Regions from separate parts of the Homo sapiens genome. Here region 1 is linked to region 2. The links come from fine-mapping of genetic effects on gene expression. Tissue or cell type: tibial nerve. Region 2 holds a variant in brackets; the other region holds the start of a gene. All regions are shown on one strand. Distances are from middle to middle.

The links. PIP is the estimated chance that this variant, and not a neighbour inherited with it, causes the effect.
Region 1: C3orf70 starts here. The variant in region 2 is fine-mapped to the expression of C3orf70 in tibial nerve (GTEx, PIP above 0.99).

The regions. Positions count from the first base shown.
Region 1 is chr3:185,151,465-185,154,227 of GRCh38, reverse strand. C3orf70 (chromosome 3 open reading frame 70) reads left to right here and starts at 1,168. Exons shown (of 2, transcript NM_001025266.3): 1 at 1,168-1,600. The coding sequence starts at 1,405. RefSeq lists an enhancer at 983-1,122 and a silencer at 1,543-1,762.
Region 2 is chr3:185,083,107-185,085,869 of GRCh38, reverse strand. It overlaps C3orf70 (chromosome 3 open reading frame 70), which reads left to right. Exons shown (of 2, transcript NM_001025266.3): 2 at 2,307-2,763. Among named protein-coding and RNA genes, the nearest start is that of C3orf70, 69 kb to the left of the region's middle. The variant C/T (reference allele first, on the strand shown) is at 1,038.

The DNA.
Region 1 (2,763 bases), 68 kb before region 2:
CTGTTTGTGTGCCCACCCACTCCTATGTACCACACACACCCGATTTGATCCGTATATGCCATGTGCACACTCGACATGCCAGATACACGCACTGCACTGCCACACATATACCATACACACACCACTCTGTATTACTAAGCATACCCACCCCCACAACACGTGCACAAGCACATGCACGTCCAACTACACACATATACATATTCTGCACGCCACACACACTCAACCACACACACACCACCCACACTCCACCTCAGTTATAACATTCATTTCACATACACACGTATACACACACCTCACCAGTCACTTGCATCACGCATACCACCCACCATGTACCATGAACACACCTAACCACACACAACCACACACGCATACCCACCATACATACTCCAAATAATCATACACACGCACGCAACACACACATCCCATGCACACCAAACTACACATACGCAGACACACACACACATCAATGCACCCAGCTTTGTTGCTTTCCCGCTCAACGGAGGCGGGGGTGGGAGGAGAAGGGGGAGGGGCTGCGGTCCCGGCGAAGGTTGGGGCGGGCGCGGGAAGGCCCGGGCGCACTGGCCTGGGGTTTGGGGCGAGGCGGGCAGGGGTTGGCGGTGCTGGCCCCTGACGCGCCCTGTGGCCGCGCTGGGGCAGGAGGCCCGCCCTGGGTGGGGGGAGTGCGCGCGTGTGCACGAGCGTGTGCGCGCCTCCCAGGGGCTCCATGCCCAGACACGGGGAGGTGTGTACGAGGGAGATGTGAGACGCCTGTGGGGACAGGCTGTGTGTGTGAGATCCTCGCTACGCGATGCACCCGGCCCGGGCCACTAGGAGGTTCGGGTGGGCGTGGGCCAGGTGTGCGCAGCCCTCCGTGGAGCGTGTGGACGCGTGTGTCAGTTCTCGGTGGCCAGTGTCACTCGGGGGGAAGTGCATATGTAGGCTGGCGTGCATGTGAGTACAAAGCGGCCGAGGAGTGTGTGTTCACCACGGCCCTCCGTCGGGGTCTTTCTCCGAGGAAGGAGTGAGTATGTGAGGAGGACCTCGCTGTGACCGGCGGGGACGCCGACGGCCAAGCTCCCCAGCGGCGTGTGTGTGAGAAGGCCGGGCTCGCTGAGGAACGTCGCGCGGGGCCGACCGGCGCGCGCCTGTGCGCGTGCGTGTGCGCGTGGGGCGCGGCGCGCGCCGCGCCGGAGGGAGGGAGGCTGCCAGCCCGGACCCGGTCGCAGCGCCCGGGGCGGCTCCTCCTCGAGCCTGGGACCGCCGCGCTCCCGCCGCCGCCGCGTGCTGGCGTGACTCCCGGCCCGTGCCGCGCCCTCCCGCGTCCGCAGCCGGCTCGGCTTCCTGCCCACCCAGACGTCGCTTCTCCCGGGCTCCCGGTGTCGGCTCCGCGCGGAGGGAGAGGAAATGAGTGCGGCGGCCTCGCCGGCGTCGGAGCGGGGTTGGAAGAGCGAGAAACTAGATGAGGCTCAGGCCCTGGCGCGGAGTTGCGCCGCCCGCAGACCCGACTTCCAGCCGTGCGACGGGCTGTCTATCTGTGCCACGCACAGCCATGGCAAGTGCTTCAAGCTGCACTGGTGCTGTCACCTAGGATGGTGTCACTGTAAGTCGAGCCGCGTCTTCCCGCCTTCCGCCGCGGTCCGGGGGACGCCCGCCGGGCCGTCCGGGGTCGCTGCCGGAACTCTGCGGCCGCGGGGCTCCGGGCTCTGCCGGGGCTGCTCTGCCGGAGGCTGGGGCCGCCGTGGGCTCCGGGCCCGCCGGAGCTTTCCTTGCGCCGGACGGCTGGGGTTGGCGCTGCCTTGACGACGAGATGAAATCCCGTGGGGCGCCTCGCTTTCTTTAGCTACTTCTACAAAAGGGAGCTCCCTGTCCCAGGGAAGCGGGAATCTGGTTTTTTTTCTTTTCTTTTTCTTTTTTTGACCAAGGCGTCCAGGCGGTGTTTTGAGAAATGGGAGCGAGCCAGCTGAGTTGGCGACAGCTGTTGGGGATGCCTTTTTTCAAGGTTGCTGGTTAAAGATGCTCCTCTTTTTCTTTCTCACTTTTGTCTTCCTGGGCTGCTATTTAAAAGAAGGAGCCCTTGGATATCCAATTGTTTCCCCCTTGATTGTACCCAAATTGAGAAAAAGCGCTAATGTGGGAGGGATTGCTTCCAAGAAGTTAATATTAACAGTTTGGAAGGTCGAGCTCCTTAAATACCCAGATGTAGAATTTAGAGCCAAATAAATGAGACTTATAAAATTACAAAATAAAATGAGTGAAAGTAAGCTTAATAGTCTTAAACCAATTTATAAAAGCTAGAACCAAATGGTCTAAACCCTTTCTCTGTGTTTAGCCTCCTGCCTGTGATTTTTAAATAGATTAAACTTAAGTAGCCATTTAATTAGAATTTCACAATTTGATTAGCTAATAGTATTTGGACTATATCCGATGAATCATTCATTTTAAGAAATATATTCTAAAGTTAGTTTCCACATATATTTGTAATAGAGGGTTTTGGAGTGCTTATTTAGGACATTTTCCAAGTGATCTTAAGTTAAAATGAATTTTTCTTTGTTGAGAAAAAAATAGCTGACAACCAGGAATGCAGTACATAACAAATCCTTATTTACATTAATCGAACATAAATGAATATTTTAAATCGAATTTATGAATTCAAGGATAGAGGATCATTTTCTTTACAAATTCCAGGCACATAGAACAGTATTGATTTCTGGTGTTCCATTTGCTTATGGGCCAGTTTCTTCCTATTTCTCATTATTCCTGTTG
Region 2 (2,763 bases):
CCCAGGTTCTCTAAGTCCGTTCTCTATCCCGTGCCCATACATTGCTCTAATCCTGGGGCTGGAGGGTCTGGAGGGAGGCTTAAAGGTCAGCCTTCTTTAGCCCTTCAGCCGATAGTGTCCACAGTGCTTAGGGGCAGAGGTCCTACCATACCACCTCTTACATCTGACCTGATTTTAACTCTGCCTGACAAGTAGTAATTACCTTTTAAAGAGCTGGAGAAATGAAGACGCCTGGTATATTTTAAACATAGTTCCCCCAGGCAGGTGTGACTGGGTTCTTCTCAATGCGTTTTTATCAGACTGCGGGGTTTGCATGAGGTACGTCCAGGCTTGGAAGCACCCTGGGAACCCAGAGGCTTAACGACTTTAAATGTACTTTTTTCATATGGTACCCCAGGATGAAAATGAAGGTCTTTTTAGAGTAATTTGGTTATAAAGAAATTGTGGTACCTGAGTGGCTTTTTTGTGCAGGAGTCAAAAAACAAAAAATATAAGCAGGCTTGATTGATCTTAAGAGATTACTGATGTTGCATGATTTGTGGCCTCTTTACTACTTCATTTCTAATCTGAAATTGCTACTCTCCTGTGGCATCATTAACATTATAAAACCTAAGCTAGTTTTCCTTACAAATGTGATTCCTGTCCTAGGATTTCCAGTCTGACAAAGAAATAAACAGGAGCAAGTACCATACACATGAGTAATTCGCCTGCAAAAAGATGCTCATGAAGATACCATAAATCACTGGTTCTTAATCAGGGTGATTTCACCCGTTGGGGAATTTGTCTCATTTGAGAAGGAGCTGCTACTGGCATCTAGTGGGGAGAGGCCGAGGATGCTGCCTAGGATAGACAGCACCCCTCCCCACCACGATGAAGAATTATCTGGTCCAAAATGCAGGTAGTGCTAAGGTTAAAAGCCCTGTCAACAATGTGCAGAAGATACAACATGAACCGATAAATTGGCTAAATTAGGAAAAATTCAAAATGATGCCCACAATTGTGGCTACTTGTCTCTGGGATTTTTAGGAGCCCCCATC[C/T]CTGCTTTAGCTTTTTGTTTTGAAATCACTTTAGACTTACAGATTGGATATTTTCAGCCCTATTTCCTTAGCGTGTGGGAGGCTTTGCTAGATGTTGAATGAAAAATGGGATGAGGACCAAATCCATTTAGGTTTTACTTCCATGTCAACTATGTGGGAAACAGTTGAGGGCTCAGAGCAGAGAGGAAGGCTTGGAGATAAGCTTGTGGGCTTCCTAGAAACATCCAGCAGGGTGTCCTCTGCATCCCTCTGTGTGTTTGCCCTTTGCTTCTGCTTGGCTTAGGTCGCTTAGTGCCAGTGGAATTGGTGTCGGGGAGGGGTGCGGGGGAGACACCTCCTGATTAGGCCACTGATGAGCTTTGGTCCTCAGAGAAACCATTTCCCACCCTAAACTTTACCCCAGTCATTGAGGGTGGCCGGGACAATCCAGTGGGCCACTACCTATTAAATAAATATGTAGGTGTATGTATCTTATAATTAGAACATAGACACCTGGAAAGTGAAAATCTCCCATAATTCTGATGATAAACTTACATACATTTAAAAACTGGAAAAATATATACATTAACACAAACATTATTAGAGATAAACATGGAATTATAATTTTACAGTACATTATACTGTTTTACAACTTGGTTGTTTTTTTTTTTGAGACAGGGTCTCACTCTGTCGCCCAGGCTGGAGTGCAGTGGCACGATCTCGGCTCACTGCAACCTCCGCTTCTGGATCAAGGGATTCTCGTGCCTCAGCCTCCCGAGTAACTGGGATTACAGGCGTGTGCCACCATGCCCAGCTACGTTTTGTGTTTTTAGTAGAGACAGGGTTTTGCCACGTTGGCCAGGCTAGTCTGGAACTCCTGACCTAAAGTGATCTGCACATTACAGGCGTGAACCACTGCGCCCGGCTGTACAACTTGTATTTTTTACCATGCTATATTGTGGACCTTTTTTGTTCTAGTATAATGAGTAAATTACTTAAAGTTGTCTGTAAAATAAGGATTATAGTGTCTATCCACCTACTTCAGAGATATCAGAAAGACACAAATATAAATTGAGATTTAGAAAGTCGATTGAGTCTTTTAGATGAAAATTATTATATACCATGCTGACTTTTTCATTGACTATACCAATGTTGAATGATTTTATTACTAGTTTCTTTTGAGGTGTTACTGAAATATTTTTAAAGACATTGAGTCCTCAGAAACCATTATGGCCATGTTAATATAGTTTGTGTAATATAGATTTCAAGTGTCTTTTTGTGTCTTCACAGGCAAATACATGTATCAGCCTATGACCCCTGTGGAACAGCTTCCAAGCACTGAGATTCCTGCCAGGCCTCGGGAACCCACAAACACCATTCAGATCTCAGTCTCGCTCACCGAACACTTTTTGAAATTTGCATCTGTCTTCCAGCCTCCCCTTCCCCCTGACTCACCGAGGTACTGTATGATTTCAGACCTTTTTATTGACAACTATCAGGTTAAATGTATTAATGGGAAGATGTGTTATGTGCAGAAGCAGCCGGCACCACATTCCCACAGAATGAGCCCTGAGGAGGTCTCTGCACACGATGCCTTAATTTCAAAAGAGAGCAATACACCAAAAATAGATCACTGCTCTTCTCCCTCAAGTTCTGAGGACTCTGGGATCAATGCGATTGGGGCTCACTATGTGGAATCGTGTGACGAGGACACAGAAGAAGGAGCAGAACTGAGTTCAGAGGAAGA